4 linked regions of the Homo sapiens genome follow. The protein of the gene in region 4 purifies or fractionates together with the protein of the main gene of each other region. This does not show direct contact. Each region holds a gene or a part of one and is shown on either strand. Other genes may lie near its edges.

Region 1 (8,379 bases), on a different chromosome or scaffold from region 4:
TTCAAGGCCAAAATAAATCAGGTTACACGCAAATCTCTTAAAACAAAGTTAACTTCTGCCTCTTCTTTAAGACAAAACAGGTAGACATCTTTCAGTTATGACCATTTTACAAGTTGAAAAATTATAAAGGTTCAATAGAACTTATTCAACAGTAACACTCACCACGCCACTGCAAGACTTTGTTTTCACATCCAGTTTCACCAACCCAAAACCTTCAACAAATAGACAGCAAAAGAAACAAAATGATTCCTTTGTATGAAAGATGCATAGCAATTGTTGACTATACATAAAAAACAAAAAGATTCCACATATTCAGAGGTGGATAAAAATGTGTTAATATACAATATTTAAATGAAATTGTTACAAATTCGTCTTTTGTAAACTGGCTTATAAAGGGCAGAATTATCCCTATGCTGCTTTGTCTAGTTTTTGGTAGTTGGTACACAAAAGAATGCTTTCAAATTATTTATTTATTTATTTATTTATTTTGAGACGGAGTCTCACTCTGTTGCCCAGGCTGGAGTGCAGTGGCACGATCTCAGCTCACTGCAACCTCCACCTCCTGGGTTCAAGCGATTCTCCTGCCTCAGTCTCCCGAGTAGTTGGGACTACAGGTGCGTGCCACCACGCCTGGCTAATTTTTTGTATTTTTAGTAGAGATGGGGTTTCACCGTGTTAGCTAGGATGGTCTCGATCTCCTGACCTCGTGATCTGCCCGCCTCGGCCTCCCAAAGTGCTGGGATTACAGGTGTGAGCCACCACGCCCAGCCCCCAAACTATTCTTAAACTTAAATATCAGATTAAAAAATCATTCAACTGAAATTTCAGAATAGCTAATAACTTATCATGATATGGCCAGGTGCGGTGGCCCACGCCTGAAATCCTAGCACTTCGGGTAGTCGAGGCAGGCAGACCACTTGAGATCAGGAGTTCAAAACCAGCCTGGCCAACATGGTGAAACCTCGTCTCTACTAAAAATACAAAAAAAAAGCTGGGCATGGTGGCATGTGCCTGTAATCCCAGTTACCAGAGAGGCTGAGGCAGGAGAATTGCTGGAACCCAGGAGGCAGAGGCTGCAGGGAGCCGAGATCACGCCCCTGTACTCCAGCCTGGGCAACAGAGCGAGATTCCGTCTCAAAAAAAAACAAAAACAAAACCAACTTATCATAATACAGACATTTAGGACATTTATGCCAATGGGGTATTTCCAACAGTCTAAATAAAGGGGAGGAGGGTATGGAACAAAATTTTCAAGAAAACTCAAATTCACCTGAAAAAGCTCATAACTCTAGATAAAGTATTAGGAGTCACCACAAAAGCAAAACAGTAATATATCGTAACTCTAGTCAACCAGGGCCTAAGCTATAACTGAAAAAAAATTAAAGCACGAGCCGTTTTTCTTAAAGGCTCAAATCTTCTAAGTACAGTTTTTAAAAATTTTGGGAAATTGGGGGAGGGGGATGTAGACTGTAAAAGAACTATTTTCACATAAGTTTAATCTAAGTATCTTAAGTTTCTAATAGAAGAATTAATACAAGGCTGGGCACAGTGGCTCATGTCTGTAACGTAATCCAACCAGGCTTTGAGAGGCCACTGTGTTTACTGGGTAACACAGTGAGACCCCACCTCTACGAAAAATAAAAAAAATTAGCCAGGTGTGGCAGAGCGTGCCTGTAGTCCCAGCTACTTGGGACGTGGGAGGCTGAGGAAAGATGATCGCTTGAGCCCAGGAGGTCCAGGCTGCAGTGAGGTATAATCATGCCACTGCATCCAGCCTGGGCAACAGAGGGAGACCCTGTCTCAAAAAAATAAGTAACTCTAAATTTAAAGCAGCAAGATATTTACAATTTGCAATGATTGATCTGATTTCGCTAAGCAACCCAAACATACATTTTCACTCTTTATCTAAAACGTTTTAAAAATAAGGTTCTTACCAAATCCTTTGTTGAAAATATCTCTGGCAGCTTTGCCAAGGTCAGCATATGATGGAGGAATACACATTGCTGGTAGAAAAAAAACATTCCAGTGTTAATGTCTCTATTCTCCCACCTTCTATCCAAGAACAAGAGCATGACCCACTGCTGATATTAAAATTCAAGCAATCCCATTTGTTGGAATGTTTTTTATGCGGTCAGGAGCTACAATAGAACTATAACGACCCATAAAGGAGATACCACCAACGAATTATTTCTAAAACAGATAACCATGATTATACAAACTTGGGGAATTCGTTTCAAAACGGAAAAACAGTCTATTACCTACAGCCTCACTTCCTAGGACTGGACAAGTACAAAGAATCAAACAAGTATTTGTGTGTATGGATATTTATGTATCTGCCAAAATTCACTGAGATGAGCTGATTTAACTAAATTAGATAAAACCGAAACCTAAGACTAGGCCCTTTACCCTGATACGTCCTTTAATATCTTCGCTGAGGGGAAAACCAACACCCTGGAGTGGGAAGAGAATTTAATACTGGGAATTTAAATATTGAAACTTGGAAAAAATACTGCCATGTGTGTTTCACTCAAATGTCTACATCAACTAAATATCAAATAGCGCTTCAAACTTACTAATGTGACTCTCAAGTCCTCGGCCAATGCTGTGCTGCTTAAGGGCAGGCAATCTGAGCTCATTACACCAGCTCATTCATTCCACAAAGCACGTCCACGCCCTTAGGAGCACAAGTAATGACCTTGCGCTCTCACAAGAGGGACTGCTACTTCCTCTAGAAAAGTGATTGATCCGATCCTCCAAAGGCAGAATCCCCAATTAACAACTTTTTACTTCTATACGTCAAAGACATGTACAAAGGCTGAAAAGTCCATGCGGCCACAGACCAACTCCCCGGGCCTTGTTCCCCATTTGAAATCCAGCAGCCCAGCCCCTCCTCCGCAGAGGAGGTGGTCAGACGGTGGGGCGACCACCAAAAGCAGCCGAATTTCCAAGTTCTTGGAAAGATAGGGGGAAACAAACTGGGTTTCTGGTCGACAGGCTTCGACTCTCCGCCGCCCCATCCCGCAGAGATCCCAGCTTTACTTACGACGCGCGCAAGTCTGTCCGTGGGTCGCCATGGCGAGGCCGCGGGAAGAGGGGAATCTGCGGGAGGGACAAGAAGTGCGGTAAGCTGGGGTCAAAGGGCCAAAGGGAGATCCCGGGCAGAGAGGGGCGAGGGGCCGCGGGGCAGCGCGGCCATCTTAGGAAGCCAGGGCCGACTCCGAGTCCGGCGCGGGCCTCCGGCTTGGCCGCCGCGGCCTAGGCCCCTGGGTCGGCGTGAGGCGGGCGCGGCGGTACCTGGTGGTGTCCTGAGGGGGGCCGCCGCCACCGCTCCGCTAGCTGCTGAAGCCGCTTGGCACGCTCGCGGTCGGGCTGCAGCTCCAGCAGCTGGAGGGCGAAGTGAAGGAGACACCGTTCCGCCCGCCGCAACCCTGTCCTCTCCCAGACAGGACCCCGCCGCTGCCCCCGGGGCTGTCCGCCGCGCCTGTCCCTGCAGCGCAGCCCGCTGCCAACTCCAACCTGCTCCAGAGCGGCCACGTGGACCGACAGCGCCCCGGTCCTGCAGGTGGGCTGCCTCCGTCCGTCGGTGGGGATCCGGAAGGCAGAAGCTGCTGGGCCTTGGATCAGGCAGCTATCCGGGCAGCCTCAGAGGCGAGGGGGCGGGGAACGGCGGAGGCAGCGCGCTGGGGACCGCCTGGGAGGGGGATGGGGCGGAGGCCCCGCGCGAACGCGTCACGGACGGGGCGGGGCGTCGGCGCGTGGCCGGGGCGATAGGGCGCGGCTGCGCACCAGGGTCACGTAGATCTCTCCTACTCCCCTTACGCGCTGGTGCGGGTTCCCCCCCGAAACAAAGCCCTGCATAGGGTGCCTGCGGGGAGTCAGCTGAGCGTTACCCACGTCCATCCTAAGCTAGCGCAGCCTGCGCTTCTGAGGGACCGCTTCTCTTTCCCAGCCCAGGGAGAACGAGTGGGACACAGGGGCGCCACCTCCAGCCCCTCGCGCTCTTCTGCCCTCTTTTCCCACCTTGGTGTGACTGCCTTGCTGTGCTGGGTTGTGTGCCTGAGAGGCTTTTTGGGACTGCCTCTCCCTGAACAAATGTGAGCGGGTCCTAGCGTGCCCCACCCATTTCCACGCCGCCTTACGCTTTCTCTTCCGCGGCTCCTCCCCACTCAGGCATGGCACTGCTTCACACACGCACGGAGCCGGAGCTTGGCGAGGCAAGCCTGCTCCGGGCCCAACCTCCTCTGGATTATGGGCCTGGAGAAAATGTGGAATCATGCTGAGCAGGCGTTAGAATGCCGCACCCGAGTTCCCCGGGTGTGCAGGAAGGGTGACAGAGCTATTAGATAAAATGTATATGGGAGACCGTTAGTTTAGACTGACCTCCTGCATTAGGCCCATCAGACCAAACCAAAATGGGGTTACTCATGCTGAAGTTTCACACTACCACGCCAAAGCTAGGATCTTTATCTGACCTTCCAAGAAATCAGGAGAGAAACAGATGCTAGCCAGATCCCCAAACAGGCTGGGCGCGGTGGCTCACACCTGTAATACCAGCACTTTTGGATGCCGAGGTGGGCGGATCGCCTGAGCTCAGGAGTTCCGGACCAGCCTAGGCATAGTAATACCCTGCCTCTACCAAAAAAAAAAAAAAAAAAAAAAAAAATAGCCGGGCGTGGTGGCTGGCGCCTGTAGTCCCAGCTAATTGGGAGGCTGAGGAGGGAGGATCGCTTGAGCCTGGGAGGTTGAGGCTGTAGTAAGCTTAGATGGTGCCACTACTGCACTCCAGCCTGCCCGCTGGAGTAAGACCCTGTCTCAAAACAAAAATCCCCAAACAGGTCAGTTTTAGCTGGCATGAAGAAGTCCCGTGTTCTTTAACCTTTACAAGAAAAGTAACTTTCTACCAACTAATCCACTTTTTGTTTCTGCTTTCCTCGGTCCTTTTCTGTCTGTAATACCAACTTCCTCTTCTCATTGGAACATTCATTCCATTTTACAGAATGAAGCGTTGCCCAATTGTAGAATTGGAACTAAAAGCCAGTTAAGATGTTTAAACTAAATTCTTTGTAATTTTTTCTTTTAACAGAGCCAAAGGAAAAAGAAAAAATGAGCAGTCTAATGAAATAGAAATGGGTTCAACTGGAACTCCCAAAGCAGTCATCTATCCAATAATGTCGCCGGTAGACCTCAGTGGTTTTTTTGGGTTTTCTTCTTTTTTTTTTGAGACGGAGTCTCGCTCTGTCGCCCAGACTGGAGTGCAGTGGCGCGATCTCGGCTCACTGCAATCTCCACCTTCCGGGTTCACGCCATTCTCCTGCCTCAGCCTCCCGAGTAGCTGAGACCACAGGTGCCTGCCACCACGCCCGGCTAATTTTTTGTATTTTTAGTAGAGTCGGGGTTTCACCATGTTAGCCAGGATGGTCTCGATCTCCTGACCTCGTGATCTGCCAGTCTCGGCCTCCCAAAGTGCTGGGATTACAGGTGTGAGCCACCGCGCTCGGCCTACCTCATTTTTTTAATCTATAAAATGACAAATGAAACGAAGTGATCTTTAATAGCCATCAGCCATAGTCTCTGAGCAAAGCCTTTTCCCCCTTGACTTTCTCTGGCTCTGAAAGCCATGTCTGCTCAAATGCTCTCAACGTTCTACCCTCCTCCTAAACCAGAAAAGGATAGGCTTCCACAGTTCAAAACCCAGATGAAAGCTGCAGCCTGGAAGATTTCCCTCCCATGAGCAAGCCCAGCCAGCTGTCTTGCCTGGTCATGACTGGGCTTACTCATGTTGCAAAAGGTTAGCAGAATTTACTTCTAAGACATCAGGCACCAGAAGCCCTCATTCATTCCTTCATTCGAGCTCAGACAGGTCGGTTTGCAGTCATCCTGGCTCTTCTGGGAAATAGTCTGGTATGTTTGATGTTATTGTGAGGCTAACAACAAAGACCGGCATTTCCATCCCAACTGCACCACAGCACCCTACCTCCCCGAAACACCCAGTCTGATAAATGAGTCACCTCCACTACCTGCAGCAGGGCTTATTCACAATGTGAATTTTCTGTAGCAATTTGTAGCCCCCTGCACTTCACTTTCTCTGTGGCTTCACCTTCTGCAAACCCAAGGAATGTACACAATACCTAATGACCAGGGGAAGAAGATCTGTGGCTAAACAGGGGAATAATGGCAGTTTTTTCCAGAGCTGAATTTAGTAAATAAATATGAGTGCTTACATCCAAAGTCCTTTAGACCAAAGCGGCATTAGTAGGTAGTTACTACCTACCACAAGCAACTACTTTGTGTCATCCACAGGGTAAGCAAAGTCCACTGAGACACAGTCCCTACTCTCAAGGCACTTAACAGTCAAGTGTGTGTAAAGATGTCAAGAACAGGGGAGGGTCCAAAAGTTTACCCTACTTGCAAACTATCAAGTTAGTCTGCCATAGTTTCAGAGGCTCACAGATGCTAGCAGAAGACATGAGACGTATGGGTCAAGGACAAAAGACTCTCTTACTTGTGGCCCAGCAGGCAGTGTAAGCTTCGTGTTTTGCCTCAATTCCCCCTGTCCTCTGTGTCCCTCAAGGATGATGCCAGAGCAGCTTAGGTGGATGCTGTGCACAGCATGCATTCGTGTCACAGCCAAGGAACCCTAAGCTTACAAAACCACGTGTCTTAGAAGGAGCTGCTAACAAATCTGCCCAACCTTCATACTGTGAAAGGAAAATATCTTGGGCCCCCAAGATCATTAAGCTAAAGGGAAAAGTCAAGCTGGGAACTGCTTAGGGCAAACCTGCCTCCCATTCTGTTCAAAGTCATCCTTCCGCTCACTGAGATAAATGCGTATCTGATTGCCTCCTTTGGAGAGGCTAATCAGAAACTCATTGCAACCATTTGTCTCTCACCTACTTGTGACCTGGAAGCCCTCTCCCCACTTCGAGTTGTCCCGCCCTTCCTGACCACTTTAAGTTGTCCTGCCTTTCTTGACCGAACCAATGTTTATTTTACATATGTTGATTGATGTCTTACGTTTCTCTAAAATGTATAAAACCAAGCTGTGCTCTGACCACCTTGGTTACATGTCGTCAAGACCTCCTGAGGCTGTGTCAAGGCTAAGTGTCCTCGACCTCGGCAAAATAAACTTTCTTTTTTTTCTCTTTTTGAGACTGAGTTTCGCTCTTACCACCCAGGCTGGAGTGCAATGGTGTGATCTCTGCTCACTGCAACCTCTGCCTCCTGGATTCAAGCGATTCTTCAGCCTCAGCCTCCTGAGTAGCTGGGATTACAGGAGCGCCACCACCACGCCCGGCTAATTTTTGTAATTTTACCACACTAAAGAGATGGCTGCTTTACTGTGTTGGCCAGGCTGCTCTCAAACTCCTGACCTCAGGTGATCCGCCCACCTCGGTCTCCCGAAGTGCTAGGATTACAGGCGTGAGCCACGGCGCCAGGTTTTTTTTTTTTTGCTTTTTGTTTTTTTTTTTTGAGACAGAGGAGATAGAGTTTCGCTCTTTCGCCCACACTGCCACACTGGAGTGAAGTGGCACAATCTCAGCTCAATGCAACCTCCGTCTCCCAGGTTCAAGCGATTCTCCTGCTTCAGCCTCCCAAGTAGCTGGGATTACAGACACCTGCCATCACACCCGGCTGATTTCTGTATTTTTAGTAGAGATGGGGTTTCACCATGTTGGCCAGGCTGCTCTCGAACTCCTGACCTCAGGTGATCCACCCACATTGGCCTCCCAAAGTTCTAGGATTATAAGCATGAGCTACTATGCCTGACCTGGCAAAATAAACTTTCTAAATTCTCAAATTTAAATTCTAAATTCTGAAATTTCTCAAATTTTCGGGGTTCACAATCCCTGAGGGGGAGATTATTATACTGCTCAGGAAATAAAATCTTTTCTCTGCCCCAGAGAGAGATACTATCTTCCAAGGCTGTTTGCTAAGTAAACATCCTTGGAAAGATAGTCTGAGACAAAAGCTGCCATAAGATGGGTAGAAACACCATGGAGAATTGGCCCCAACAAAGGATGGGGTATGGGAAAGACAAGCTCAAGATGTCACAAGTACAGTATTTTTGTGGGGAGCAGGGTCTTGCTGTGTTGCCCAGGCTGGTCTTGAACTCCTGACGTCAAGCAATCCTCCCATTTCAGCCTCCCAAGTAGCTGGATCACAAGTGTGAGCCACCACACTCGGCTCCTGCAAGTACAGTTCTAAGATGTAAATACAGAGAACCTTGAGCACAGTCAGATGGAGGAGCTACTTGCACTAAAGTTTGAAAGCAGGACTTACCAAAATTAGAAAGCCAACAGGTGGAGGCTGGGAAGGCAAAATTCTAGAAAGAGGATGTGCAAAATCATAGGAGTGCTTGAAGTGGCAAGAATTGTTTGG
Region 2 (7,604 bases), on a different chromosome or scaffold from region 4:
AAATTATGACAAATCCAAACACAGTGTAGTGGTAAAAAAGGAATGAAGAATGAAGATATATTTACTGATGTTGGGTTAAGTGAACAAAATGCCAAAAAAAAAAGTATTTCTATTAAGCATACTATTTGTGTTAAAAGGAGGGTGGGGAGGAGATATACCTATAGATTATCTCTGGAAGTATACTACTAACACAGGTGGCTTCCAGGAGGAGGAAATGAACAGCAGGGCACCAGGAGACATTTCCCCCTATACGCTCGTGTATCTTTTGAATTTTGAACCATATGAATGTCTTACCTAAAGAAAATTAAGCTGGGTGCAGTGGCTCACGCCTGTAATCCCAGCACTTTGGGAGGCTGAGGTGGCTGGATCAAAGGTCAGGAGTTCGAGACCAGACTGGCCAACATGGTGAAACTCTGTCTCTACCACAAATACAAAAAAATTAGCTGGGCATGGTGGCGAATGCTTGTAATCCCAGCTACTCAAGAGGCTGAGGCAGAGAACTGCTTGAACCCAGGAGGTGGAGGTTGCAGTGAGCCGAGATCGCGCCACTGCACTCCCGCCTGGGTGACACGCTGCAGCCTTTTAAAAAGTCCTCTTTATTTTTTTCTCTCATCTAACTTTTTCTTTCTCATTCCCTCCTATTAACATTTCCAGTTCATTTTACTCTCCTCTATTTACGCCTATTAGGGACATTTACTACAACTGCTTAGCCCAGTTGGGAGTCCAGTTACTAAATGCCAACAAGGTTGGTGAACTCTGTTCTAGTAATTGTCATAAAAAATGGGTGACAACATCAGCTATAAAAGAAATCTGAGTATTTACAGAAGGGTAGATAACTATACTTAAACAGGAAACAAAAAAATAAGAAAGGTGAAGGAATAAGGGGATACTCATTCAATATTCTCTGCTTTGTCCATTCTTAGTTTATTACCTTTAAAAAAAAAACCTCTTAATAAAAACAAAGTACGCTAGAAAAGTGATTTTTCCCTCTCTGTTAATTAAGGAACCAAACCTGCCTTCTCAACAAGACTATATAGTGGCCCAACACATAGAATACCTAAAGAATCAGTAGACACCATGGTCACTGCTCTTTAGTTACTTAATGTTTTCTCTTTTCATTTCCATTAGGTCATTTATTTGCAAACAGATCCACATATTGTTATTTCACATGCTAATATCTAGTTTTGTCAAATTTTATGTCACGTACTCAATATTTTTTGCATCTCAGATACTGAAATAAAGGCCTAGAGTCTCATCTGCCAAAGTTGAAACATAATTCTCTCTCATACGATGCTAAATAACTCCTTTTTTGTCTAAAGCAACGTTTGCTTCTAGAAATAACTAAATCATAACTGATTTGTCCTCAATACAGTTGTAACTGGGGGAAAAAGATATAACTGGTCCTGTGGTATATGGGAATCTGGGTAAGAACTACTGCTAACAGGATGTCATAGACAAAGACCACTGTTCAACTGTGTATTCACATGTAGTGTGACTAGCAACTATCATAAAGAAAAGCTCTTTGCCTCAGAAGTTCTAAAAAAAATTGAAAGCTCACAGGCTCCAAATTATTAATAATAATCAAATCTACCTGTATACTTTTTAATTTATAAAGCATTTCCCATACATCAAAGAAAATCAGAAGCTCAAATTAATGAACTGATTTTCCAGCTAAGATTTAAATCCAAGTCATTCCAATATACAGCTGTACATTATCTATTATCTATCTATTCTTAGTTTAAGTAGGTAGATATACCTAACTCACGAGTAGATGAATAGTTACATGAAAACGTTCTTTCCCAAGGTCTAAAGTGCTATTCTTACCTTTTTTTTTTTCTTTTTTTTTTTTGAGACAGGGTCTGGTTCTGTGGCACAGACTGGAGTACAGTGGCATGACTACAGCCCACTGTAACCTTGAACTCTTGGTATCAAGTGATCCTCCCACCTTGTCCTCCCAAAATGCTGAGACTACAGGAGTGAGCCACTGTGCCCAGCCTGCTAGTCTTATTTTATCCAAACCCTACATCGGTTTCCTCCATCAGATACAAAAGTCCTGCCTACCAGTAACATTTCTCTGAATAACTTTTCAAAATGCCCAACGTTTACTAAAATCAAATAAGTGCGTTTTTTTCTAAAACTACTAATTTTCAATTAAAAAATATAAGATTTTCATTTCTTTACAAATCATAGAGCAGAAAAATTTATCCAGAATTACATTGAGATTCCTGACATTTGTGACCACAAAACATATAAAACTGCCACATGGGAAAAGACAGGTCTCTGAACTTCACACAAAAGGTAATTAATATTTTTAAAGCAGAGTGAACACACATGTGAAATATACATCATATAGTTATACAAACTAAATTAATTTTCTAACTTGGCATAATGACAGGGTAGCTTGGAGGGAATATAAAAGAAAATACTCAAGAGCTTAAAATTAACAATGGGCCCATTTATTCAAGGTAGGATGGCTCTCTCATTTCAGCTTGAGGACTGAAAGTCTTTCTGTCTTCCGGTAGGAGGGAAACTGCAGCTGGCAGGTCTGGAGAATCGCTCAACTACATTCACAGCTTTACTTGGAGTCAAGCAATGGCAAGAAAAGTCTTCATCTTCACTAGGCACTGGACAACACGGAGAAATGCTGACTTTGAGGTGTTTAAATTTCATCCTTTGAGGATCAGTTCAATTAACTTCTCCTAAAGGAAACCAACCCCCACAAACAAAAGATTTACACCCACTGAAACTGAGAAACACTTATCAGAATCTGTCATTTCATAGAATATTGACTTGTGACAGGTCTTACGACACTGTCTAGTTCTATAGCACTGTGCTTATTTCTTTTCCATCCAACCTTTGTACTCCCCACTTTGTATCTTCTTCAGTGGCTTCTAGGAAGTATTACTATAACTACTGAATCAATGAATTCATAGCAAAGTGTTTCACAATTCTGTCCTTCTCTGTTCTGTGTTAGACTCCCAAACAGGGCTCCATAATCCAAGCAATAGTAAGTTTCTTCTGCTTTTCAAATCCAATTAGAATTTTGTCCAAGCTTATAACAATTTATCCTCCCCTAACTCTTGAGAATCAAAGTCATTGTTATTTAGATGTTAAAAAGTTTGACCTAATTCTTATCTCTTAAAGAAACATCTAAAATGTGTTTACAGAGAATTGGGATATCATCTTCAGGTAATCCAAATATTGACAGTGAAGAAAAGAGCCCAAACATAATGAGAAAGTAACACACAGCAGAGTATTTCAACTTTAGGATATAACAACTTAAAAGATGTTACTCACAAATATATAATCTTTATCAACTGGCCAAAATATAGCCTTGAATTATCCAACAAGTCTCCTATTTCTTGTTATAAAATATACTGGCAAAAACCAACAAACCCACACTGCTACAATGAAACCCATCCTCACATTCCATGGCTTCAGGGCAATTCCATAAACACAGGATCATAAAAAGACAGCCTGCAAACTTAGGTAGCCCGCACTCCATTTTAAGGATCGGAAATTAAATGACATGTGATCATCCAGCTACAGCAACCTGAGGATCTTTTTAAAAAGCTAGCAGGAACTGGCAATCTTATGTTAGAAATCCACCAACAAAACAGTATACAAAATTCATACAATACAGATGATGAAGAAATTTGAGTCCAACGTGAAAATGTTATAGCTTGTATGCTTTAGGATACAAGTTGTATTCAGCATATTCACATGCTGATACAACAAAATCTAAAGAAAATGGAATGTTCAAGTCCCTGCTAGTGGCTTATCTCATAACACAATTCGATACACCAGAGCTCCAGTGTTATAAAGGAATGTAAATGACCCTTTGGAGTTCAACATAATAATACCTAATCAGAGGAAAAATTGCACAGTTTTGAACTCTAAAGATGCAGATTCCCAGCTAAGTACAAACTTCTGATTTTTTTTCCTTTCTTAATTTCAGTGGACAATAAGTTTAAAAAAACAAAACAAAACCATAACTGTATGTTCCCTACAACTACGGGGGTTAAATATTTAATGTTTCAAGTCTCTAAATAGTTTTCTTTTTAAAGTTTATAATATTATTATAAAAGATAATTGAGAGACTGCCAGACCTTGCTAAGAATTTCATGTGCATTATTAAAGTAAGTGAATCATTAAATTACATGTTTTAAGCATGCTTTCAGGTTTTAATTGTTTCTTGATACTATTAATTAAAGAACCTGATGACCAGTAATATCCCAGTAATTTTACATAATTAAGGCAGAAAAAGTATAACCAAAGAACTAATTAAGATGAGAGTAAGTTAAAAATTTATAACATTAACAATCTTACCACAATATAAATTAGTTATTAAACGCAAACCTTTATTAGGCAATGTTACTAGGCATATTTAAACCACACAAGGGGTTAAAAATAACTACAATGAAAGGCCAAGAGCCTAGCAGCCCGATTGAGCCAACATTCCCTTCTCTCCTTCCCCTCCCCTTCCAATCCTCTCCAGTCCAGAATGAATTGCATGCCCCACTGCACAAGGCCCAAAAAGGTCACAGTAGATGGCAGAGACTTTTGTAAGAGAACAGAAATAACTCAGCAGCTTTGTTACCATAGTCTCTTTTAATCAGTATGTTCAAAATCCTTTAATTAGCACTCTGTCTACACAAGGAAAGCATTTCTTCTGTGCCAGGGGAGGGCACATATGTATGTACACAGTGTTCTGTTGTATCAGCATCACAACATGGAGCTAGTACCTCAAACTGTCTGCCAGGAAACTGAAGCACATGAAACTTTTTTAAAGACACGGTACCACAAAATTCGCAAACATACTCTATTTGCATTTCTATTACCACACAACAAAGTGATAATTAAGTTTGGCTCATTTAGGTGTCAATTTGTTTCTGAACTTTTTTTCAGCAAAAAAGTAAGCATTTAAACTAATAACTTTCTTTAGATAATTAAAGTAGAATATTTAAAATATAAAATGCTAACAAAACGTAAAAACCAATAATACTCAAAGATTGCTCCTGTTCCCATAATAGATCATCAGTAGAAGAAATAAAATACCAACTCACTCAAACAGGAATAAATCACATGACACATTTTCACATGGATGCTTTACATTTAAAATTTCATCTAACCATGAAAGGTGTTAAAACTTGCAGGCTGGATTACATATATATACTTCCTTATAAAATCTAATTAACTGAAATCAAGGCAGAAATTGATGATAAATTAAAGATAACTTTAAAAAAATCCACAGCCAAGAAACAAAGGAGACTCCGTTAGTAAAATGGGATTTGCAGTATTTTAATAAGGATATTTAGGCGTTACAAACTTATTTTTAATCTTTCAAAATGAAGTTGGATACACATACAAGATGCAGAGTATGTGTGTGTATATATATTTATACATACACATATATTATTAACCAAAATGACAATCTTCTAAATATCTGATTAAAGAAACAACTAACTAAATTTAAGGTAAAGTGAATTATTAAAGAGGCAGCACAGCATAACTGTTGGAAAGCCAGCTCTTCCATACAGTCATGTGAGCGCACAGCACAGTTATATACAATGGGAATAATATCACTATTTTGCATGTTGGTATGATAATTAAATGAGATGATGCATTCACAGCACTTGATAAATATCCAAGTTTGTTGGTAAGACTGGCACAAAAATAGTATTTTCATGCGTTGCACAAAAGTGTAAATTGGCACAACCTTTCAAAATGACGTAGATACATATATTCACATATATATGTATGTACTTATATTTGGTATTCACTGTACCACTGTAACAGTAATATGGAAATGCCACAAATACTCTTCAGTAGGGGATTGGTTAAATGTCACTTTCCTTATAAAATAAAATTATACAATTGTTTTAAAAAAACACACATACCTCCTTATATATTAATAGAGAATGATCTCAGGGTAAATTGTTGCAAAAAAAAGCAAAGTATAAAACAGTGTGGGCCAGGCACGGTGGCTCACGCCTGTAATCTTAGCACTTTGGGAGGCCGAGGTGGGCAGATCACCTGAGGTCGGGAGTTCAAGACCAGCCTGACCAACATAGGGAAACTTGGTCTCTACTAAAAATACAAAATTAGCCAGGCGTGGTGGCACATGCCTGTAATCCCAGCTACTCGGGAGGCTGAGGCAGGAGAATCGCTTGAACTCGGGAGATGGAGGTTGTGGTGAGCCGAGATTGCGCCACTGCACTCCAGCCTGGGCAACAAGAACAAAACTCTGTCTCAAAAAAAACTGTGTGTATAATATGCCACCATTTGAGTAAAAGAAGATGGAAATTCATATTTATTTGAATATGCAAAAACAAACCTTTTAGAAACTTATATAATAGTAATAATTACCTACTGGTGATGAAAGTGAAACAGTACCTGACATATAGTCAAGTCTCAATAAATAGAAGCTTTAATTACTCCTCTCATCAGTGCTATCATCATCATCATGAAAACATATCCTTAAAATATATACACAGAATACATTCAAACTAAATCCATAATGAGGTAAAAAGCCAAATCTCAATTATTCATAGGCTATCTAGTTGGAGCTCCAAGCCCTTCATTTCCTCTTCAAGGGTAAGTAGCTTTTGGCCATCTTACTGTTGGCTATCACCTCCACCAGAAAGTGAGCTGAGGAAATAATTCCGAAACAATCATTTTATTCAATTTTGATCAACAGTTTTTAACAAACAGCTTTTGGAACTGAAAGAGATTATTAAAATCCCATAGCACAACCTTTGAAAATTATATATGAAAGAACGAAGATTCAGAGAATTCCCCAAATTAGGGACAGTTCAAAAATGTACAGTCTGTTCCTAGTTAAATGCTTTTTCCATTTTATTATTGATAACATGGGGGAAAACGAAAAGAAGTTAAATTGAAGTCAGTTATCCTTGCTAAATCTACTCCCCTCATCCTTTATTATAGATAATCAAATTTGCCAAGATCAAATCCCAGGAGCAATGATAATAAGTAGAGTACAGGTCAACAGAGAATTAAACAACTCAGCCCGAGGACTAAGCACTGAATGAACATCTATAATAAAATTTGTAAAGTTTACTTACACTAGAGATTGTCAGAGGCATGTTGAAATCCTTACCGCCCTGCAGCCGGAAACCCCAAGGAGCTGGGCCAACCAGTGACACACTGTAGTTGCTCATGGTTCTAATGGCTCAAAGTCCAATGACAGAAAATGAAATATGCTGTGAAAGAAAATCAGATGATTAGCAAAAATGTTTACTTGAAACCCTAGAACATAAATTATGTTTAGTATTTTGTTTGAGGGGGGTGAGAGGATATAGAAGATAAGTCTTAATTAAGTTCTTCATTAATTTCAGTTTAAGAAAAGCAATCTGTGAGCTAATATAAATTTTCTACACTCATGGCAATTTCCATGGTCTAAAAATTCCATATCAGAATACATTTCTAGACACTTAGTATGTTTCACAACTTGCTTCAATCCAATTTTGTGGCTTCTTGCATGCAAAGTTTAACTCAAAGTACTTTACAATACTTCACTAATGTAGCAAGATTTTATTTCAGGTTGAATTCAGAATAATTTTCTCCTTCCCTCCACTTCATGT
Region 3 (7,894 bases), on a different chromosome or scaffold from region 4:
GTGTTAGCCAGGATGGTCTGGATCTCCTGACCTCATGATCGGCCTGCCTCGGCCTCCCAAAGTGCTCGGATTACAGGCTTGAGCCACCACACCCGGCCGAAGTTCACAAGTTCAGTAACTTTATTTGGCAAATAAATATCTTTTTTTTTTTTTGAGACAGGGTCTCACTTTGTCTCCTAAGCTGGAGTGCAGTGGCGCAGTCACAGCTCACTGCTGCCTCAACCTCCTGGGCTTAAGTGATCCTCCCAACTCAGCCTCCTGAGTAGCTAGGACTACGGTGTGCACCAATACGCCTGGCTATTTTTTTTTCTTCCTTTTTGTAGAGATGGGGTTTTACCATGTTGCGCAGGCTGGAATAAGTACTTTCAAAGGGTCCTTTAATGACAAAACTATAGAGGTAGAGAACAGGTTAGAGGTTGCCAAGGAACAGGGAATGAGGGGTCTCTGAGGGACACGGGGATCTCAGTGACAATGGGACAGCTATGTCCTGTCACAGTGGTCCAGGAATTTACACACTTTATGAAACTGTCACATAGCCTCCTTGCCCCAGTGCAGGGGGAAACTGGGGAGCCCTGAGCCAGGCCTGCAGTCTATAACAGCATCAGCACCACAGCAGTGCCCACTTCCCGGTGTGGATGCCATGCCATGGTCACATGAGATGTCACCATGGGGGACAGTGGTTGAAGGGTTCACAGGACTGTATGGGCTGATTTTGCAACTTCTGTGCATCTATACCCATTTCAACATGACAAGTTAAGAAAAAGCCTGTTGTGCATCTATACTCATTTCAACATGACATCTGGCACAGTGCTAACACAGGTCTGCCAGAATGCACTGAATGAGGCACTGAAAACAGCCCATTTCGTCCTGTAAAATCACCCCTGGATAAAGTCAGCTTTTAGCAAATGGCTTTTACAAAATTAAAACAAAACCAAGGCCCATTGGGGCAAAAATGGGTTTCAGGGTCCAGGGATCCTTAAACTGAATGCAAAATGGGGAGGATCACATTGTGGGAAGAGCATTCACAGCTTTGATTCTATTTCCAGAGGCCTGTGCCTCCCTCCCACAAGGAGTTAAGAACCTTCACTTCACAAACTACAGATCACAAACCCAACAGACTATTTTACAACTATATAACATTTATGAACATATACTATCAATGAATGTATTTTTTTGTTAATATTCATTAAAAAAAAATGTCACAACTTGGGTTTAGAAGATTTTTTTTTTTTTTTTTTTGAGACGGAGTTTTGCTCTGTCGCCCAGGCTGGAGTGCAGTGGTGTGATCTTGGCTCACTGCAACCTCCGCCTTCTGGGTTCAGCAATTCTCCTGCCTCAGCCTCCCAAGTAGCTGGGATTACAAGCATGCAACACCGCACCCAGCTAATTTTTGTATTTTTAGTAGAGACGGGGTTTCACCATGTTGGTCAGGCTGGTCTCGAACTCCTGACCTCGTGATCCACCTGCCTCAACCTCCCAAAGTGCTGGGATTACAGGCGTGAGCCACCTCGCTGGGCCAGAAGTTTTCTTAAAAAACAATACAAAACAAAACCAGAAACCCAGGACTCCCCAGCCCTCCTGTGGGTGTGGGTTTAGGAAAATCCATCTTTATTGGCCCTGCACTGCCAAGTGTAATGGACCTGACACTCCGCACCAGCTCTGCCCTAACTGGTGAGGGCCAGTAAGGAACAATACAGATGAGCGCTCTGTCCACCAGGCAAACTGCAAATTATTCTCAGTGCTAAGAAGGGAAAAAACTGAGCAGCAGAAAAATGTGTAGCCCCTTTTCTGGAGCTTTCTTTCTTATGAAGAGAGGTCTGGACTACAACGGGGGGGCTGTGTGTGTGAGGGATTCACAGCTCTAGCTTTGGATCTCCCAAAGAGGGGTCCGGAGCAGACTGTGGCACCCCAAGCCAGTCACTGAATCCCCATATTTTATGGTTAAGCAGCCAAACATGCCAATTCACTCTCTAGGCTCTGCTAGATAAACAATGCCCTTACTCAGTTACCAAAGAGGAATTAAAGCCTGTTTCTCAAGTCACCATGAGAAAGCAGAAAAGAGAGGAAGTCACTTCCGTATTAGGTGCTCGCAGCATTCATCCATGAAGCGTTTCATGATTTTCTTAAAAAATATTACTTGTTCTCAACAAAACATAGACACAAGGCTCGTCTACTCTGCACTGCAGAGGACAGAAGAGCTAAGTATTAATAAATAATCCTTCTTTGTATTTTCCAAGTTCTCTCCAATGTAAACAACTCAAGCCCAGGAAAATCCAGTATTTAACAGTGTACCAACCCTGTGCTTTCATGGGCACCGGCTTTTACCCACCCGGTGCGTCTGGCGGTGGCTGTCCAGCAGGCCGGGCACCTGCCGCCCACGGAGTTGTCCCACTGGGCACCGCAGGGCTCAAGGGCGATGGCAGCACTGGCAGCTTCTGGTCAGAGCTAGCTGATGTCCCCGCTCTGCAGACATCAGCCCAACAAAATTGCATCTCGCTGACCACAAACTGGCCACGTGGAAGTCAGCTCGAAGCTCTACCCTGAATCTCTCCTGAACTCAAAGGCTCTGAAAGCTGCCTCGACCCATGAAGGTGCACAGAGGGGCTCCCGCGGGCTGCCCACAGCCCGTCCCGGGTGCGGGGTCTGAGGGCGCAGCCGACCCCACCCTGGGCGGAGGGCGAGGCTGGGGCTCCGGCTTCGTGCCCCACGGCTCGCAAGGACCCGTCAGTACCGCCCGCACCGCTGACCCCAGCACCGAGCCCCTCACGGCTGACCCCAGCTCCTCACGGCTGCCCCCGGCCCTGCTCCCTCACGGCCGACCCGGGCCCCGTTCCCCTCACGGTCGCCGCTGGCCCTGCGCCTCTCACGGCCGACCCGGGCCCCGCTCCCCTCACGGCTGTCCCTGGCCCCAACATCCGGCACCTGCGCTCATTCCTCCCGGAACGAGCCGCCCGGGGCACCGCCACCCGGTCCGCGTCCCGGAACGGGAGACCCGGGGAAATCGGGGCGCCGGGGCCTCTGGAGGGCGCTTGCGCCGCGCCCGGGCTCCGCGCCGTCCTCACCGTGGAAGTCGCCCGTGTCGGCCACCACGGTGGTGAACTGCTTGAGCTGGTCCAGCGCGGACTCCATCCTCTGACGCTTCACGGGTGAGCTCGACATAGCAAGACCGAGGGGTCTGCGGCGGCGGCGGCGGCGACGGGACGGGCGCGCGGACGGCCCACAATGCCCCGCGGGCGGCTGCCAATCGGAAAGCGGCGCGGGAGGGCGAGGCCCGCTGGTCCCTGCGCGCCTGGACGAAGCCCCGCCCCCGGGGACGAAGCCCGAGCGCCACTGCCGGCCGCGCACCGCAGCTGCGGATCCTACAGGCTGGGTCTCCCCAGGTCCTCAGCAGCCGCCGCGGACGGGCCCGGGAAAACACCTGCACGACACGGGGCGGCTGGGCCTCGCCTCCTTCCTGCCCCGCGGGACGCACCGGGAGGGCTGGAGGAGATGGACCTGGCCCGGGTGCCGACTCTGCGGGGCTGAACCCGCCAGGGCCGAACCCGGCGATGCAGGATCCATGGTGGGGCCAGGACTGGGGTCGGGGGCCGCTGCAGGAAGCAGGGGAGGGAGCGGCGGGGGACGCCCTGCGGGTGCAGGAGGCAGAGCAGGGGGCGGCTGCAGAGCCCGGGCGCCGGACGCGGCGGGGAACCTGCTTCTGGGAATCTGTTCCCCTGAGTCCTAAGCCCAGAGGTGTCCGGGGGACCGAACGGCGAGGCAGGCGTAGGAGGCCCAGCTGCCCTGCTTCTTACCATCGCTGACTTGCAGAGTTCCTTGTATATTCTGATCAAGTCTCTGTCGCTTGTGTCTGCGTTGCAGACACTGTAACCGCCCCATGGGTTCGCCTTGCCAGCTGCCGGGACAGAGTCTATTGTCAAGACAGGGGAATTGCAATAGAGAAAGCATAATTCACACAGAGCCGATTGTTCGGGAGACCAGAGTTTTATTCCTCAAATCAGTCTCCCCAAAACTCGGGGATCCCAGTATTTAAGAATAATTTGGTGGGTAGGGGGCCAGTGAGTCAGAAGTGCTGACTGGTCAGCTAGGGATGAAATCACAGGGAGTCGAAGCTGTCCGCTTATGCTGAGTCAGTCCCTGGGTAGAGGCCACACAACTGGTTGGCAGGTCCAGGTGGGGCCATCCGGTTGTCAGAAATGCAAAAACCTGAAAAGACTTTTTTTTTTTTTTGAGACGGAATCTCGCCCTTGTTGCCCAGGCTGGAGTGCAGTGGCGCGATCTTGGCTAACTACAACCTCCGCCTCCCGGGTTCGAGCGATTTTCCTGCCTCAGCCTCCCGAGTAGCTGGAATTACAGGCGCTCACCACCACGCCCGGCTAATTTTTGTATTTTTAGTACAGACGGGGTTTCATCATGTTGGCCAGCATGGTCTCGATCTCCTGACCTCGTGATCCGCCCACCTCAGTCTCCCAAAGTGCTGGGATTCCAGGCGTGAGCCACCGCGCCCGGCGGAAAAGACTTCTTAAAAGGCAAATCCTAGGCTGACGCGGTGGCTCAGGCCTGGAATCCCAGCACATTGAAAGGCCAAAGCAGGCGATCACTTGAGGTCAGGAGTTGGAGACCAGCGTGGCCAACATGCAAAACCCCGTCTCTACTAAAAATACAAAATTAGCCAGGCGTGGTGGCACATGGCTGTAATCCCAGCTACTTGGGAGGCTGAGGCAGGAGAATGGCTTGAACCTGGGAGGTGGAGGTTGCAGTGAGCCGAGATTGTCCCTCTGTACACTAACCTGGGCTACAGAACGAGACTCCATTTAAAAAAAAAAAAAAGGCCAACCCTAGGTTCACAGTAGTGTTGATATCTTGGGGAAGTTGCAAATCTTATCTTATGACCTCCAGAATAATGGCTGATAATATTTAGACTTCCAGCCCCTCTCATTCTAACTTGGTGGCTGGTGGCCTTTCATTCATTTTACAAGAACAGTCTAGTTTTGGGGAAGGGCTATTATTTAAACTATAAATTAAATTCCTTCCCAAGACTTGTTTGGCCTATGGCCAGTAATGGACAAGGACCGTTTGAAGGTTAGAAACAAGATGGAATTGGTTAAGTCTGTTATCTTTCACTGTCATAATTTCCTTAGTTATAATTTTGCAAAGGTGGTTTCAATACTTCCTCTCAGCATGTGTTCCCTTTTCATTTTAATAGTGTCTTTAATGAACGTTAGCTTTTTATTTTGATTAAGTTCAATTTATCAAGTTTTAATTTTATATTTACTCCTCTTTTTTGGTATCTTCTCTAAGGAGTCTTTGCTTGCTCCAAAGTGACAAATTTTTTTTTTTTTCTGGTGAGATGGAGATTTACTCTTGTTGCCCAGGCTGGAGTGCAATGGCGCGATCTCAGCTCACCGCATCCTCCGCCTCCCAGGTTCAAGCGATTCTCCTGCCTCAGCCTCCCGAGTAGCTGGGATTACAGGCATGGGCCACCATGCCCGGCTACTTTTGTATTTTTAGTAGAGACGGGGTTTCACCGTGTTGCCCAGGCTGATCTCAAACTCCTGACCTCGTGTTCCACCTGCCTCGGCCTCCCAAAGTGCTGGGATTACAGGTGTTAAGCAACTGCGCCCGGCCAACGCCCAGCTAACTTTTGTATTTTTAGTAGAGACAGAGTTTCACCGTGTTAGCCAGGATGGTCTCAATCTCCTGACCTCGTGATCCGCCCACCCTAGTCTCCCAAAGTGCTGGGATTATAGGCGTGAGTCACCACGCCCAGCCAACAAAAATATTTTTTTTTTTTTTTTTTTTTGAGACGGAGTCTCGCTGTCGCCCAGGCTGGAGTGCAGTGGCGCAATCTCGGCTCACTGCAGGCTCCGCCCCCTGGGGTTCACGCCATTCTCCTGCCTCAGCCTCCCGAGTAGCTGGGATTACAGGCACCCGCCACCTCGCCCGGCTAAATTTTTTGTATTTTTAGTAGAGACGGGGTTTCATCGTGTTAGCCAGGATGGTCTCGATCTCCTGACCTCGTGATCCGCCCGCCTCGGCCTCCCAAAGTGCTGGGATTACAGGCGTGAGCCACCGCGCCCGGCCTCAAAAATATTTTCTTATGATGTCTTGGTTTTCAGCTGTTATGTTAAGAGTCTTTGAGGCCACTCCAGTTTGTTTGTTTTTTTTTTGTTGTTTTTTTTTTTTTGAGACGGAGTCTCCCTCTGTCGCCCAGGCTGGAGTGCAGTGGCACGATCTCGGCTCACTGCAAGCTCCGCCTCCCAGGTTCATGACATTGTCTTGCCTCAGCCTCCCGAGTAGCTGGGACTACAGGCGCCCACTACCACGCCCGGCTAATTTTTTGTATTTTTAGTAGAGACGGGGTTTCACATGAGCCACCGCACAGGGCCCCCTTGATTTTTGTCTCTGTGACCTAGAAGTGGAAGGTAGTTTTTCTCTACCGCGCCTGGCCCCCTTTATTTTTGTCTCCGTGACCTGGATATGGAAAGTAGTTTTTCTCCACCTGTTCCAGCATCTGTTGAGAGGACTTTCTTCTCTCCATTGAAATGCAAAAATAGGAAATATACATCACAGAAGAAGGTATAGAGCAGGTAGCCATCTTTTGTCTTCCCTTGCCACACTGGAAGAACTGTCTTGGGCCACATGTAAAATATACTAACAATAACTGATGAGCTTAAAAAAAATTGCAAATAAAAAATCTCATGTTCTAAGAAAGGTTGCGAATTCGTGTTGGGCCACATGCGGCCTGCAGGCCAAGGGCTGGACAAGCTTGGTGGTATACAGTATTTATTAGGGAAATGCAAATGAAAACCACCATGAGATCTGTCCACATGGATCATAGTGAGAACAAAAGACTGGCAACACCAAGTGCCAGTGAGGACATGGAGCTCCAGGAACACCCATGCGCTGCTGGTGGGAATGAAAGTGGAACAAAGGCTGGGTACGGTGGCTCGCGCCTGTAATCCCAGCACTTTGGGAGGTCGAGACAGGTGATCACCTGTGGTCAGGAGTTCGAGACCAGCCTGGCCAACATGGTGAAACCCCGTCTTTACTAAAAATACAAAAATTAGGCTGGGTGCAGTGGCTCACGCCTGTAATCGCAGCTCTTTGGGAGGCCGGGGCAGGCAGATCACGAGGTCAGGAGATCGAGACTATCCTGGCTAACACAGTGAAACCCTGTCTCTACTAAATATACAAAAAATTAGCCGGGCATGGTGGCAGGTGCCTGTAGTCCCAGCTACTCGGGAGGCTGAGGCAGGAGAATGGCATGAACCTGAGAGGCAGAGCTTGCAGTGAGCCGAGATCGCGCCACTGCACTCCAGCCTGGGCGACAGAGCGAGACTCCATCTCAAAAAAAAAAAAAAAAAAAAAAAAAAAATTAGCCAGGCATCGTGGCATGTGCCTGTAGTCCCAGCTACTAGGGAAGCTGAGGCAGGAGGATTGCTTGAACCTGGGGGGCGGAGGTTGCAGTGAGCCAAGATTGCGCTACTGCACTCCAGCCTGGGCAACAGAGCGAGACTCCACCTCAAAAAAAAAAAAGAAAGAAAAAAGAAAGTGGAACAAAATGAGCTGTGGAAAATTGTCCTATGGTTTCTCATAAACTTAAGCATGTACTTACCATGGGAACTGGCAGTTCCACTCCTCAATAAAAAGTTCTCCACAAGAAGATTGGCACACAGATCCTCATAGTGGCTTTATTGACAAAAGGTCCAAACTGGAAACAACCCAAATGTCCATCAGCAGGAGAATGGGCCAAACTGCAGCCCCTCCACAAAGTGGAGCACTACCCACCATACAAAGGGAGCACTGCCCACCATAGAAAGGGAGCACTGCCTACCATACAAAGGGGAGCAGCCCCTCCACAAAGGAGAGCACTACCCACTATACAAAGGGATCA
Region 4 (7,604 bases):
AATTCTTCTCTAACCATTGTCTACATTTAGCAACATCAGGCATATATTCACAGTACTAGGAGAAAAAAAAAGAACTGAGTCACAACAAAACATTTTCAGTCAAACAATATGTCGTAATTAAAAATCACCCCCTATACTTGTTAATACAAAGAATAAAACAAACCACTCCCATCTGACTTCTTATCCACAGGAAATCTGTATTCAACCACGATATGTCCCATAAAAAATTAGATATTAAGAAGGATTAGGTACCTCTTCACAGTACCAATTTATTTCTTCTCCCTCTATTTCTTGCTTTGAGCACATAAGTGCCTCATTTTCATGACTTGCTCATAGAGCTGGACTTAGAAAGTCTTACACATAATTTATACTGCCCTTTCTTTCCTCTGCTCATTTGTATAGATTTTGGCATTAAGGTTACTCTTATTTTATTAGCTGACTATTCATAAGTCCCATGCAAAAATCCAAACTGCACAGCCATGTGCAAAAGATGCACATGTATGATTTAAGGTCTAAATTTAGGAAAGAATATATAAGACCAAAAAATTACTCTAAATCAAAGTTCTCTATAAAAGGTTAAAGCTTTACTATCAAATAATCAAAAATGAAAAATAAAAAAAAATTCTCAAGGTAGCTTTAAAACCAAGAATAACTTCAAATACATAAGGTAAAAAAAAAAATTAAAGAACTTACCTCTGTTGGTAATGAACAGACTGAGGAAGTAAAAAGAAAAAAGATTTGAAATGTTAAACCTATATGTACACACATACACAGGGCTTATCCTTACTTTTATATTTGAGAAAATGCTTCATTTTTACATTTTCCCTATAAGTTTTCTATACCACTTTTCAAATGCTACTCTTCAGTGTTTTTGGGGTAAAAGGCACATGGTTATTTGAGATGATACTATCTTGACTTTTTCATCTAAAGAGTGTCTCCATCAGCTGATGGAACATCAAAATATGCTATTTTGTATATAATGAGGTCTTACCATAACCATTTCAGTGGGTCAAAAAATTAAGCTAAGACACGAACAATTTCCCATACATCAGAGTTTGAAGGAAACTGGTTATTTCTTTTCTTTTGAGACACGGTCTCACTCTGTTGCCCAGGCTGGGGTGCAGTGGTGCAATCATGGCTCAATGCAGCCTCCACCCCTCCAGGGGCTCAAATGATCCTCCCACCTCAGTCTCCCAACTAAATGGGACTACAGATGCACACCACCATGCCCAGCTAATTTTTTGTAGAGACAAGGTTTCACCATGTTGCCCAGGCTAGTCTCAAACTTCTGGGCTTAAGCGATCTACCTATCTTAGCTTCCCAAAGTGCTGGGATCACAGGCGTGAAGCACTGTTCCCAGCCTGGTTATTTCTTTTGATGGTTCTACCAAAACAGCCACCACTTTTTATTCATACTGACACATTTATAAACTTTAGCAGCATTTTTACTACCATCTTTTTGCAATATATTTTTCCTTTTTTTTTTTCTGAGACAGAGTCTTGCTCTTTCTGCCAGGCTGGAGTGCAGAGGCACGATCTCGGCTCACTGCAACTTCTGTCTCCTGGGCTCAAGAAATTCTCCTGCCTCAGCCTCCCAAGTAGCTGGGATTACAGGCGTGTGCCACCACGCCCGGCTAATTTTTGTATTTTTAGTAGAGACGGGGTTTCACCATGTTGGCCAGACTGGTCTCAAACTCCTGACCTCAGGTAATCCGTCCGCCTCAGCCTCCCAAAGTGCTGGGATTACAGGCATGAGCCACCGCACCTGGCCTATTTTTTTTAGAGTAAGGGTCTCACTCTCACTCTGTCACTCAGGCTGGAGTGTAGTGGTGTGTCCATGGCTCACTGCAGCCTCGAACTCCTCAGCTCAAGTAATCCTCCCGCTTCAGCCTCCCAAGTAGCTGGGACTATAAGCGTGAGCCACTATGTACAGGTAAGTTTTTTATTTTTGTAGAGACGGGATCTCGCTATGTTGCCAAGGCTTTTTCATGTTATGCTACATAAGATCATGAAAGTGTAAAGCTAGAAGGAATCTTGGTTCAATCCTGTCATTTGGTGTTAGAGCCTGTACAGGCTAATAATGGACTAGAAGAACTGGAAAAGCTTCCAATTTTAACCGTAATTCTAATACTGGGTCAACTGCTTATTTTGTTTTTATTTATTTATTTTTGAGACGGAGTCTTGCTCTTTCACCCAGGCCGGACTGCAGTAGCACTATCTCGGCTCACTGCAAGCTCCGCCTCCCGGGTTCACGCCATTCTCCTGCCTCAGTCTCCAGAGTAGCTGGGACTACAGGTGCCCGCCACCGCGCCCGGCTAATTTTTTGTATTTTTAGTAAAGACGGGGTTTCACAGTATTAGCTAGGATGGTCTCGATCTCCTGACCTTGTGATCCGCCCGCCTCAGCCTCCCAAAGTGCTGGGATTACAGGAGTGAGCCACCGCGCCCGGCCTTTTGTTTTTATGTTTAAGGTTTAGAATGGAGTAGTTCAGTGTGTCCAATATCCTGAGATTTCTCAGGGAGAGGAAGGTGGTATACCATGTAGTCACAGCAATTACTACACACTGGGCACCTAGTATGTGCCAAATGTTTTGCTATGCCTTATATACATTATTATGTTTAGTTATCACAACCTTGTAAGATAAGTACCATATCTATATTCAGATGATGAAACTGAGGCTTAGAGTACATAACCACTTGCATCTGGATAACAGGATTTGAATCTGCCTGTTTCTGACGCTCATGCTATTAACCACTAACTTAGGTTACACAAAGTAAACAAGCAACTTAGTGGCACCTGACAGCTGAAAATGATCTGCCTTCACCTCACCCTACTAACATTCTAACATGCTACCACACAATCACTATTTTACAGATGGGGCACTAAAAGAGTTAAACAGCTCATACAATGACAAAGGTGGTATGTGGCAGAAGAAAACTGGAATCCATTGGTTTTGTCCAGTCTAGTCTATTATAGTTTAGGGTTATTTCCACCAAAGATCTCTCTGGTTAGCTACAGCCCTATATTCCTCACAATTCAAGTTCAAATACTAGGCATAGTTGTTCAGCCACACTTTCAGGATATAACTATACAATTATTGGTTAAACACCATCACAGCAAATACTAAAGCTACAAATTTTGTATACTATTTCAAATAATATTTAGTTCAGAAAAAAAAAAAAATTGGGGTTTTGCTCTGTTGCCCAGGCTGGAGTGCAATGGCACCATCTCAGCTGGCTGCAACCTCTACCTCCTGGGTCCAAGTGATTCTCGTAGCTCAGCCTCCCGAGTAGCTGGGATTACAGGTGTGCACCACCACACCCAGCTAATTTTTGTATTTTTAGTAGAGACAGGGTTTTGCCATGTTGGCCAGGCTGGTCTTGAACTCCTGGCCTCAAGTGATCTGCCTGCCTTGGCCTCAGCCTCCCAAAGTGCTGTGATTACAGGTGTGAGCCACTGTGCCTGGCCCGGTTCAGCAAAATTCTAATGCAATAAAAAAATTGGGGGAGCTCCTTTAAGTTCACCATTATTTGCTTTAAAAAAGTCAATTTCTCTTTACAGATCACTTACTTATTTGGAAAGGGAAAACTGTACCTTTTCAATGCAAACATTTAGCCGTCACCTTCAAACTTAGCATCACTAATAGTGAAACATCTGACATTATGAGCTCTTGATGCAATGCAACATGATGAATGAAACATCATCCACGAAACTTTCTTGCCAAAATCTGTTTAACTTGAATCTAATTAAGCCTCTAGGCCGGGTGTGGTGGCTCACGTCTACAATCCCAGCACTTTGGGAGGCCGAGGTGGTGGATCACCTGAGGTCAGGAGTTCAAGACCAGCCTGGCCAACATGGTGAAACCCCATCTCTACTAAAAATACAAAAATTAGCCGGGTGTGGTGGCGCACACCTGTAGTCCCAGCTACTCAGAAGGCTGAGGCAGGAGAATCGCTTGATCCTGGGACGCAGAGGCTGCAGTGAGCTGAGACTGCCACTGCACTCCAGCCTGGGCAACAGGGCAAGACTCCAACTCAAAAAAAAAATAAATAAATAAAAAATTAAGCCTCTAGACTCCAGCTTCTTTTTTTTTGTTAAAGAGACAGTCTCACTTTGTCACCCAGGCTATAGTGCAGTGATGTGATCTTAACTCATGCAGCCTTGAACTCCTGGGCTTAAGTGTTCCTTCCACTACAGCCTCCGAGTAGCTGGAACTACAGGCACTTGCCACCACACCTGGCTAATTTATTTAATTTTTTGTAGAGGCAGGGTCTCACTATGTTGCCCAGGCTGGTCTCAAACTCCTGAGCTCAGATGATCTGCCTGCCTCGGCCTCCCAAAGTGTTGGAATTAAAGGTGTGAGCCACTGTGCCTGGCCAAATGAGCAAAGTTACCACCACATGGAAACATGGAATGGGACTAATCCACAGCCAGGTACCTCTTGATAAAATGCACTGAAATTAACAGCACTTCTGTGGTGGTCTTGGCACAAGATCATAAACTAAATCTAGTCTTAAGAACACATCAGAATGGCCGGGTCTGGTGGCTCACGCCTGTAATCCCAACACTTTGGGAGGCCGAGGCGGGTGGATCACAAGGTCAGGAGTTCAAGACCAGCCTGGCCAAGATGGTGAAACCTCATCTCTACTAAAAATACAAAAATCAGCCAGGCACGGTGGCAGGCGCCTGTAATCTCCGCTACTCGGGAGGCTGAACCAGGAGAATCACTTGAACCCTGGAGGCGGAGGTTGCAGTGAGCCGAGATCACGCCATTACACTCCAGTCTGGGCAACAGAGTGAGACTCCTTCTGAAAAACAAACAAACAAAAACTGCCTTTCTATAACAGAGAATGAACAGCCACAATCAGCTTCCTGAAAGTCAATATTTTCAATTACAAATTTCGCTGTCAACAGTCACCAAAATCACTAACTTTGCACACAGTGTCACTAAGCCTCAATCATCTCATACTTTAAAGTCTTCTAAATTTGGGGAGGAGGGTGGAAAAGATTAAAATAAAAATAAAGTCTCCTAAACTTGATTTCTGTGGCCAGTTTCAACCCATTTCAGGCACTTCCTCCTTCCTTCCAAACAGTTATTATCCAAAAAGATATAACCAATCACATCACTTCCCAGATTAAGAACTTTTCAAACATCTTATCGTACTTCTCCAGACTCAACTCCTACCAGCCCATGGTCCAACCACAATGAACTTCTATCCATGCCATTCTTTTCAGCAAACACCTATTCATCCTTCAAGACTCTGCTAAGTTTCCTTGAAGCTGATGTTATAATGGCTTGTCTTGGATTTTAATCCTGGCCCCACCACTTATACAATTGAGAAGCTTATCATCAATAAAACTGTAATATTTCAATTTTGAAGATTAAATATACAAACATAAAATCCACTCAATACTTTAACTTTCCCTTTTTTCAGTTCTCCCAAGTAGAACTGGTTGGTTCTTTATTCTCACTGCAGTCTGCTCACCCCTCTAGTATACAATTAGTACATTATAACTCACCTGTTAAAATGTTTGTCTTCCCAGTTAAGCTCAGTTTCCAGGAGATAATTATGTCTTATTTCTGTATATGGAGCACAATGCTTGCCACAGAGCAGATGCTTAAAACGTGTTTCCTAAATGAATTTGAGCTGCTCTCTGAAACCCCAGACTTTAGCTGAGAGCAAATTCTCTAATTTGCATCCTTCTTTTTGCAAAAGGGGAAAGGGAGGGAGGGGGAAGGAATGATAAGAAAAATGCCTATGTCACTATCGCTTCTATTTTTCTCTTTAATCAGTTGGGTATTCTATTGGAGGGTTTTCCCTCTTCTCTAAGCACTCCAGCAATACTAAATGTCTGTCAAAACTACATCCAGTTTATTTCTCCCATCTCCCTTGTCCTCAAATCTGATTAACTGCTTTATACTGTTCATCCTACCATAATTTATTTTTCAACCTCTCTTCCTCACTTATGCCACTCATTTAAATGCTCATTAATTTTGTCTAAAGTCTTATTATAGCCTGGCCAATAAGCCTGCCTCCCTCAATTGTTATCTTGCTGCCAGATTCATCTTCATGTAACTTCACTGCTCCAAAACTTTCAATGACTTACAATTATCTACAAATCAGGTGCCCCAGAACTTGGCCCCAAACCACGTTGCCATAATTTCCGGCTGCCCCTCTTCATGAATTCCACAATACAACCAAACTGTAACACTCGAAACTCCCTCCACACTACCCACTATTAAATACTTTCCTACCTCCACTCCTTTGCCTGGCAAGTCCAACCTTCAGCCCTTCTGTGCCTGCCTGAATGCAACCTTTCCTTCAAATCCCCATTTGGCTGTGGTTGCCTCTATGAAGTCTTCCCCTAATTTCCTACAAATCTCTCCCCTCCTGTACTGACACTGCAGCTATTAGTCCTTAATCTTTATTTCTTGTCTCTTTCTTCTTTTTTTTCTGGGATGGAGTTTTGCTCTCAAAGGCTGAGTGCAGTGGCACGATCTTGGCTCACTGCAATCTCCGCCTCCCAGGTTTAAGCGATTCTCCTGCCTCAGCCTCCCGAGTAGCTGGGATTACAGGCGCCTGCCACTATGCCCAGCTAATTTTTGTATTTTTAGTAGAGACAGGGTTTCACCATGTTGGCCAGGCTGGTCTTGAACTCCTGACCTCAGCTGATCCACCCACCTTGGCCTCCCAAAGTGCTTGGATTACAGGTGTGAGCCACCGCGCCTGGCCTATTTCTTGTCTCTTTCTTTCAGCATTCATCATCTTCCCTGTTAAGTTATATGTAGACAGACAGGGCCTCTGCCAATTTATATGCCTCCACAGAACTTAGCCGAGGACCTTATACATCAGAGATACTAGGTAAAAATTGTTTATAGTCTTTGTAAATTGTTGATTATGATGTGGACTCTATTAACAATGTCATCATACCTTCTTACCAAGCTGGCTAACAAAATCCACTACTTTTACAAAATGGTAATGTTAGAAATTAAAAGGTACAGTCTAATCCCATCTCCACTACTAGTTTCTTCAATTAAGCATAAGAATGTTTTTACATTAAGTGGAAGCCTGTACTGTTCTGGAGAGTGTTGACAAGGTAGAAAGGCACCTTTCAGTAGTTTCCACTTTAGTCCTAGTTCACTGACCCTCTGAGGTCACAGGGAATAGATCTTATCCTTTACTCACATAGGTTTCCAAATTTAAAGAGTTGTTTCACAGGTAATCATTATATAAAAATATAATAGGAATCTATATTCTGAGCATCTTGTTAAAATAAATGTATCAGTTTTTCTCACATCCTTAGTTTTGTTTTTTATTTTTGAGATGGGGTCTCGCACTGTTGCCCGGGTGGGAGTGCAATGGCGTGATCTCGGCTCACTGCAACCTCTGCCTCCCGGGTTCAAGTGATTCTCCTGCCTCAGCCTCCCAAGTAGCTGGGATTACAGGTGCCTGCCACCAGGCCTGGCTAAGTTTTTGTATTTTTAGTAGAGACGGGGTTTCACTATGTTGGCCAGGCTGGTCTTGAACTCCTGACCTCATGATCTGCCTGCCTCAGCCTCCCAAAGTGCTGGGATTACAAGTGTGAGCCACTGCGCCCGGCCCC

The links.
Region 1: the proteins of DENR (region 4) and VDAC2 purify together in Homo sapiens (affinity purification with mass spectrometry; 2 studies listed by BioGRID and IntAct, with this or other methods). This does not show direct contact.
Region 2: the proteins of DENR (region 4) and PDLIM5 purify together in Homo sapiens (affinity purification with mass spectrometry; 2 studies listed by BioGRID and IntAct, with this or other methods). This does not show direct contact.
Region 3: the proteins of DENR (region 4) and TALDO1 purify together in Homo sapiens (affinity purification with mass spectrometry; 2 studies listed by BioGRID and IntAct, with this or other methods). This does not show direct contact.

The regions. Positions count from the first base shown.
Region 1 is NC_000010.11:75,205,854-75,214,232, reverse strand, and holds the start of VDAC2 (non-selective voltage-gated ion channel VDAC2), read right to left. Parts: upstream 3,438-8,379; 5' UTR 3,295-3,437; intron 3,100-3,294; 5' UTR 3,075-3,099; coding exon 3,044-3,074; intron 2,752-3,043; exon of another isoform or gene 2,650-2,751; coding exon of another isoform or gene 2,574-2,649; intron 2,004-2,573; coding exon 1,935-2,003; intron 213-1,934; coding exon 163-212; intron 1-162. UniProt on the Homo sapiens protein: Non-selective voltage-gated ion channel that mediates the transport of anions and cations through the mitochondrion outer membrane and plasma membrane.
Region 2 is NC_000004.12:94,454,866-94,462,469, reverse strand, and holds part of PDLIM5 (PDZ and LIM domain protein 5), read right to left. Parts: intron 7,224-7,604; 5' UTR 7,182-7,223; coding exon 7,086-7,181; intron 6,652-7,085; exon of another isoform or gene 6,227-6,651; coding exon of another isoform or gene 5,912-6,226; exon of another isoform or gene 5,286-5,911; intron 1-5,285. UniProt on the Homo sapiens protein: May play an important role in the heart development by scaffolding PKC to the Z-disk region. May play a role in the regulation of cardiomyocyte expansion. Isoforms lacking the LIM domains may negatively modulate the scaffolding activity of isoform 1.
Region 3 is NC_000011.10:742,747-750,640, reverse strand, and holds the start of TALDO1 (transaldolase), read right to left. Parts: upstream 3,178-7,894; 5' UTR 3,160-3,177; coding exon 3,063-3,159; intron 1-3,062. UniProt on the Homo sapiens protein: Catalyzes the rate-limiting step of the non-oxidative phase in the pentose phosphate pathway. Catalyzes the reversible conversion of sedheptulose-7-phosphate and D-glyceraldehyde 3-phosphate into erythrose-4-phosphate and beta-D-fructose 6-phosphate.
Region 4 is NC_000012.12:122,755,296-122,762,899, reverse strand, and holds part of DENR (density-regulated protein), read right to left. Parts: intron 714-7,604; coding exon 694-713; intron 56-693; coding exon 1-55. UniProt on the Homo sapiens protein: Translation regulator forming a complex with MCTS1 to promote translation reinitiation.